Homo sapiens: one gene and its partner. The protein of the gene in region 1 purifies or fractionates together with the protein of each later gene. This does not show direct contact. Each region holds a gene or a part of one and is shown in the gene's direction. Other genes may lie near its edges. The genes, in order: ASPHD1 and POMP.

What was found.
Region 2: the proteins of ASPHD1 (region 1) and POMP purify together in Homo sapiens (affinity purification with mass spectrometry; one large-scale study listed by BioGRID and IntAct). This does not show direct contact.

The regions. Positions count from the first base shown.
Region 1 is NC_000016.10:29,898,699-29,902,605, forward strand, and holds the start of ASPHD1 (aspartate beta-hydroxylase domain-containing protein 1), read left to right. Parts: upstream 1-1,789; 5' UTR 1,790-2,273; coding exon 2,274-3,222; intron 3,223-3,907. Other genes in the region: SEZ6L2 (seizure 6-like protein 2 isoform 5 precursor), read right to left, coding at 243-321.
Region 2 is NC_000013.11:28,672,559-28,676,365, forward strand, and holds part of POMP (proteasome maturation protein), read left to right. Parts: intron 1-3,807. UniProt on the Homo sapiens protein: Molecular chaperone essential for the assembly of standard proteasomes and immunoproteasomes. Degraded after completion of proteasome maturation. Mediates the association of 20S preproteasome with the endoplasmic reticulum.

The DNA.
Region 1 (3,907 bases):
TCTTGGATCTAGCCCCTGAGACACTGCTAAAAGCTTCTCTCATTCATTTCTCTGCCTTCTCAATATTGAGGGTTAAGGGGCTTCGGGTTCAAGCCTGAAAGCTCTGGCTTGCCCCTTCCCCATCAGCTGTGCCTCTCCCCTCCCCCATGTGCTCGGAAGACCCAGGATATTAAGAGAAAGGAGGGTGGAGGACCCCGCTGGACGCCTTCCTGGGGCCCACCCCCACAGTCTCATGTCCTTACCCTGGATCCAGGGACAGCTCAGCAGAATTAGGAACAGCAGCTGGGGAGGCGGCGGGTGCTGGGCCCTGGGAGTCCCCATGGCGACTCACCCCGATCTCTCTCCTCTGTGCCTCTCTAAGTAATCTGGCTGCCACCTTTCCTCCGTCTCCGTTTATCTTTCCCTTTAATTGTTTTTTTTTTTTTTTTTTTTTTCCTCGTAGGAGTCAGCAAAGAAAGACAATTTCTCTGCCCCTTGGGATGGAGGGGCAGAATTGGGCTAGGGGTCGCCTGGAGCCCACCCCCCTTTGCTCAGTCTCCTCTGTCCTCTTCTCGCGGCTCTGTGGTGGAGGGGGCGCGGCTCCGGCTGCAGGGGGTGGGGCCGAGAGGGCCGAAGGGGCCGGGTGGCCTGGGTTACCCTCCTGCTCAGGCGCCTGGGTCCACTGGGCTGTCTGGACCCCAAGCTAGGGGACTGGGGAGGAGAAAGACAGCTTCTGGGGGTTTAGGGTGGGGTCGAGGATCGAGGGGGTCTCCACTGGGCTCTAGCGGGGCTTGTCGGGGAGGGGAAGGGGTGGGTTGGGGAACTGGGAGAGCCGAAGCTCGGGCACTGGAGCTGCGGGAGGGAGAAGCTGAGAAAGGTATCGAGCCCACGTCAGATCCTGGGGACGGGCGGAGGGAGGGGCCTGGGATTTATTTGACGGGGAGGGAGGAGGAGGAAGTGCAGATGGAGGAGGGAGGGATCATACGAGCCAGGGCCGTAATCCTCACTCCCGCGGCCCCTAGGGGAGGCAAAGGAAACTCTCTGGTCCCAGCAGTAATTAGCCCCCTCCGCCTGCCATTCCAGCACATCTGGAATCTGAATCTCCTCTTCCCAGGGTGCCGAGGGGCTGCATAGCTTGGTTCGCGCCTGCTAGGCCCCCAATTATGCCCCCTGTTCACATTCAGACCTCCCAAGGGGCTTCCCTTCCCCTTTTACAGTAGCTCGGGTGGAATGGGCTCTCCCTCCTCCAGGGGAATAGAGAGCTTCCACGATTGTGACAAGTCTCGTGGGTGACGGGCCGGGGTTTGGGGAGGAGAGACAGACCCCTCCTCTTCCATAAACCCTGACCCCGGCCAGCTAACAGGCGGCCTCGGCTCTGATTTTCCCTCCGGAGCGCCCTTTTCAGCACCAGCGGCGCGCGGACAGCTCCCCTCGCCCCGCCGGGGCGGGCCCGGCCCGACGCCGCCCGCGATTGGCTGAGGCCGCTTTCGGTGTTTGCCAGGCTCGCGGGCTCCCGGGCTGCCTAGGGCCAGCGGGAGTCACAGGCCGACCGACCGACGGACCAGCCGCCCGACGGACTGGCCTCAGCATCCTTGCCCGCAGTCCCGGGCGCCTGCCCAGCCGTCAGTCCGCGCTCGCCCCGCCCCTCAGGCCCCGCCCCTCAGGCCCCGCCCGATACGACCCGCCCCTTCTTTCGCATTGCGGGACGGCTGGAGGCTGGCACCGTGGCCCCTGCGCCCCACGTGGCGCCCTTTCCGGGCGGGGGGGGTGGGGAGGCACCTCCAGCGACAACTCTCCCCCCTCCCCCGGCACCCGGCTGATTTGCTGTGCCACTGGGAGGGTTCGGGGGTGGCTGAGCTGAGAGGGCTCCGGGAAGGAGTGACGTCAGGGTGAGTGGGAGCCCAGGAAGGAGCGAGTAGGAGAGAGGGAGCGAGAGCCAGGCAGGACCGCAGGGTCGGGGCTAGTGAGGAGCGAGGGCAAGGAGAGAGCAGTGAGGCCGGAGAGAAAGAAGCTGCCGCGGAGGAAGACAGGCTGCGGGTTCCCGGGACTGCAGGTCCAGGCAGGGTAGGAACCGCTGCCCAGGGGAGCTAGGAGGAAGCGGGGAGAGAGAGCGAGCGAAAAGCGGGGGTGGGGAGGAAAGGGGGAGATTGAGGTGGGAGAGAGAAGCAGAGCGAGAGAGAGGAGGCTGCTGGAAGGAGAAAGAAGAGGGTGAGGAGGCGACAGAGGGAGAGGAGGAAGAAGAGGTAGAAGGAGAGAGAAAGGGGAGAGAAAGGAGAGAGGAGGGTTGGAGGTGCATGAAGGAGGGGAGAGGGAGCTTCAGCGTGGAGAGAGGACCGCGGAAGGAGAGAGAGACAGCCCAGAGTGGAATGTGGAAGGGAAACAGTCCAGCGGGGAGCCAGGGGGCAGCCATGGAAGGGACAGGTGGGGAGCTGGGGGGACAGGGGAACTGGGGTCCGGAGGACGCCCCAGGCCTCTTGGCCAGGGCCTCCCTGATCATGCTCCCGTGGCCACTACCCCTGGCCTCCTCGGCCCTCACCTTGCTCTTCGGGGCCCTCACTTCCCTGTTCCTCTGGTACTGCTACCGCCTGGGCTCCCAAGACATGCAGGCCCTAGGGGCTGGGAGCCGAGCTGGGGGTGTTCGTGGTGGGCCTGTGGGATGCTCGGAGGCCGGCGGGCCAAGCCCAGGGGGTCCTGGGGATCCCGGGGAAGGACCTAGGACGGAAGGCCTAGTGAGCCGGCGGCTTCGGGCCTACGCAAGGCGCTACTCCTGGGCTGGGATGGGTAGAGTGAGGCGGGCAGCTCAGGGTGGCCCAGGCCCTGGGAGAGGGCCAGGGGTCCTAGGTATTCAGCGCCCAGGCCTGCTTTTCCTACCAGACCTGCCTTCAGCCCCCTTTGTGCCGCGGGACGCCCAGCGGCACGACGTGGAGCTCCTGGAGAGCAGCTTCCCTGCCATTTTGCGGGACTTCGGGGCTGTGAGCTGGGACTTCTCAGGGACTACCCCTCCGCCTCGGGGCTGGTCCCCACCTCTGGCCCCCGGGTGCTACCAGCTCCTGCTGTACCAAGCAGGCCGGTGCCAACCCAGCAACTGCCGCCGGTGCCCGGGGGCCTATCGGGCACTGAGGGGGCTTCGAAGCTTTATGAGTGCCAACACCTTCGGCAATGCCGGCTTTTCCGTTCTCCTGCCTGGGGCCCGGCTCGAGGGCCGCTGTGGGCCCACCAATGCCCGGGTCAGATGCCATCTGGGTAAGTAGCTGCCGCCTACTGACAACCTCCTTGCCTCGATGATTTCCCCCCCAGACCCTTCTCTCCGCCAGAGCCGTCTGCTGTCTGGTTCTCATTGTGCCTCTCTTCTTCCATGGCTCCCTGTTGCCACCCACAGCAGCATTTCCTCAGCCTCGGTTATCTGCACACCACCTTCATAAGCTTTGCCGTGGTCATTCCCATCTGTACTGCGTTTCTTCACCTTGGCTCTCCCCCCGACCTTTTGTTCTACGTATTTAAAAGAAATATTTATAGCACTATCAGTATTACTTGCCCTAAATAGTACTCATAAAAAGCCTGGACAACACAGTGAGACCTTGTCTCTACAAATAATAAAACAATTAGCCGGGCGCGGTGGCCCATGCCTATGGTCCCAGCTACTGGAGAGGGTGAGGTGGGAGGTTCACTGGAGCTCAGCAGTTTGAGGCTGCAGTGAGCTGAGATTGTGCTACTGCACTCCAGCCTGGGTGACAAGAAAGTACTCATAAACACAAGCTGAAATTTAAAAAAGAAAGCTTTCAACAGTCTAGAACATTCTAGTTAAGTGCTCTAGTCTCTCTGATCCTGAAGCCTACACTTTTTTCTTTTTTGAGGAGTCTCGCTCTGTCGCCCAGGCGAGAGTGCAGTGGCACGATCTTGGCTCACTGCAAGCTCCACCTCCCGGGTT
Region 2 (3,807 bases), on another chromosome or scaffold:
ATTAAGATAAAGTTTAATGGTAGTAACTGTTCTTTAACTGTTTTTAAAAGTGAAGATTGGCTGGGTGCGGTGGCTCACGTGTAATCCCAGCACTTTGGGAGGCCGGGGTGGGCAGATCACCTCAGGTCAGGTGTTTGAGACAAGCCTGGCCAACATGGTGAAACCCTGTCTCTACTAAAAATATAAAAAGAAAAAAAGTGAAAATTATTTATGAAATTCTAAGAGTACATAGTCATTTCAGTCTAGTAATGGTGGTTATTCACTTCATGTCCTGAGCTTCAAGTGTAATATGTCAGTCTGATATTCCTAGGGTGACTTAAACAATGATAATTATTTCAGAATTCACATTGTTGGGATGTGACTGGTGTTGTTTTTGTGTGTTTAGTTTGATTTTGGGGTTTTTTGACTAGCATTTTAAACAACTGGAAAATAAATCTTTCTTTAAAAAGTAGCTCCCCAAAAAAGTAATTTTTGTACTTCTACAGGTGATAAATAGGAAAGAGGAATCTGTCTTTTTTTTTTTTTTTTTCAAGATGGAGTCTTGTGCTGTTACCCGGGCTGGAGTGCAGTGGCGCAATCTCAGCTCACTGCAACTTCCGCCTCCTGAGTTCAAGCAATTCTCCTGCCTCAGCCTCCCAAGTAGCTGGGATTACAGGCACCCATCACCACACCCGGCTAATTTTTGTATTTTTAGTAGAGACGGGGTTTTACCATGTTGGCCAGGCTGGTCTCGAACTCCTGACCTTGTGATCTGCCCGCCTCGGCCTCCCAAAGTGCTGGGATTAGAGGCGTGAGCCACTGCACCCGGCCGAATCTGTTATTTTTAATAAAATTCCCTGAATAATTGTAAATGAATTTAAGTAAGAACAATATATGCAGCATCCTCTATTTTTTCTGGTCCTGAGGAAGATAAACAAATACAATCCTGTCCAATGCTGCCTCTGCTCGTTATGCCCCAGCAGTGCAGGAGAAACAAAAATATCCAACAGGATTAAGTTTTATTAGTTTTGCTTGGCTGCTGATGTCCGGTAAGGAAATGCTGTGGACATAACAGAAGTCTAGTGAGCCTCCTTTCAGAATCTTCCCTGAGGGAGCATTTTGGATGCAGGAAAAGCTGGGATTCTTAAGCTTTTACATTGAACTTAGACCTTATTTAAAACTACTAAGGTGATAGTTCAGGTCTTTAGTTACAAAAGCATTCATTTAAAAATCTGCTTCTGTAATTCTGTTTAAAGAAAGGGAGAGGGACTTAGGAGCATTTATCTAGTCAGTCAAATATGTGTCAGGCACTGGGCTAGGCTCTGAATATACAGCTGTGAACAAAACAAATATCTGTGCTTTCAAATGGGGGAGATAAACACATAAACACAAATATACAATTTGATAATTCTAGGAATAAAAAGGATGTTTTTGGGTTGGGAGGGCACATACCTCTGGGAATACAACACAGAAGTGAATTTCTGAAAGAAACATGAAATCATTGACCTAGAAGTAGAAGGAGAGTATTTCAGACAGAAGAGATGAGTATGTTCAGGGTATGTAACCTGAGAACAGCTGAAGAACTCTGAACGGTTTGAGATCTTACTCTACTTTGAAGCTAACTTGTTAGCCTGCCATGAATTCATGGATGCTGGCAGAAGACAAGAGACTCCTAAAGGACAGTTTCTTATTCATAGCAATAGCGTAGCCAGAGTATCAGCATTTCTTTTGGTTCCCTTAGCCCCACTTCCTATGGGGCAGCTAAGAAGAGGGTAAGGTGAAGCCTTGTACATTGAGTGTGTTACGTTAGAGGAGAGGAACTCCATGTTCAGGCCACCTCAGCCTTATAACTGGCAGTAAACCTGCCTGTCCTGTGCTGCTTTGTCTTATGAGGCTGAAACGGCTTTGGAAAGATAGCCTAGAACAAAGGCAGTTTAGTGTCTCTGCTCCCAGCTTGCAGAATGGAGAGACCAATAGAGAACTGTCTCCCAGCATATATAAGAGCACTTTAAGAAGGCCCATATGGCTGGCATGTTTTGAGCAAAGTAGAGAGTAGAATAAGGTTGAGATCAAAAAGCTCAGCAAGGAACAGATGAATCAGGGCCTACAGACCATGAAAAGAAGTTTAGAATTTCTTCAGAATGCAAAAAAAGGCCATTGAGCAGTTTTAAGTAAGGATGTAATGTGATGGAATTATATGTTTAAAAAGGTCACTAGCTGGCTGGATGTGGTGGCTCAGATCCATAATCCCAGCACTCTGGGAGGCAGAGGTGGGAGGATCAGTTTAGCCAAGGAGTTTGAGACCAGCCTGGGTAAGATGAGACCCTGTCTCTACAATTTTTTTTTTTTAAATTAATTGGGCATAGTGGTGTGCAGCTGTAGTCCCAGGTACTCAGGAGGCTGAGGCAGGAGGATCACTTGAGCCCAGGAATTTGAGGCCACAGTGAGCAGGGATCACACCAGTGTACTCCAGCCTGGGCGACAGAGTGAAACCCTATCTCAAAAAATAAAAAATAAGCCACTTGCTATCTTGTGGGCATCTTTTAAAATTCATTCCTTGTGTCTCTCTAAGGTAGCTATTAGGAAAAATCACCTGTTTAGGTAGATTTTTTTTGTTTTGGAGACACGAGTCTAGCTCTGTCACCCAGGCTGGAGTGCAGTGGCGCGATCTCGGCTTACTGTAACCTCCACCTCCTGGGTTCAAGCAATTCTCCTGCCTCAGCCTCCCAGGTAGCTGGGATTACAGGTGCCCACGACCACACCTGCCTAATTTTGTATTTTAGTAGAGTCAGGGTTTCACCATCTTGGCCAAGCTGGTCTCAAATTCCTGACCTCCGGTAGTCTGCCCGCCTCAGCCTCCCAAAGTGCTGGGATTACAGGCGTGAGCCATCACGCCCGGCCAGGTAGATGATTTTTATCCACCTGGTAGATGATTACAGTGAGACCACTGTATTTGGGGTAGTTTTTTTCTTGTGGGAACTGTTATTGCATAATATACGGTTAACTTAGGGCTTCACCTTAGGGACCTGAATTAGCTGTTCCTTTCTGCCTCAAATAGTTTACCCTCATTTTTCAGATCCCAACCTAAATATTACTCAGAGAGTCCTCCGTTAACTACTGTTAGTCTGTTCTTGCATTGCTATAAAGAAATACCTGAAGCTGGGTAATTTGTAAAGAAAATTTATTTTGGCATATGGTTCCTCAGGCTGTACAGGAAGCATAGTGCTGGTATCTGCTTCTGGTAAGGGCCTCAGGAAGCTTACAATCGTGGCAGAAGACAAAGGGGGGCCAGTGAATTATATGGCGAGAGGGAGCAAGAGAGTGAGGGGGCTGCCACACAGCTTTAAACAACCAGAACTTGTGTGAACTCAGAACAAGAACTCACTTATCCGGGGGGTGGTGCTAGACCATCCATGAAGTGTTCAACTCTGTGGTCCAGTTACCTCCCTACAGGGCCACCTTCCGCACTGGGAATCACATGGCTTTGTTTTTTTTCTCTCTCTGTCACCCAGGCTGGAGTGCAGTGGCGCGATCTCTGCTCACTGCAAGCTCTGCCTCCCGGGTTCAAGCGATTCTCCTGCCTCAGACTCCTGAGTAGCTGGGACTACAGGCGCCCACCACCACGCCTGGCTAATTTTTTGTATTTTTACTAGAGATGGGGTTTCACCGTGTTAGCCAGGATGGTCTCGATCTCCTGACCTCGTGATCTGCCCACCTCGGCCTTCCAAAGTGCTGGGATTACAAGCGTGGGCCACCGCGCCTGGCCGGGAATCACATTTCCAACATGAGATTTGGAGGGGACAAACATCCAAACCATATCAACTACCT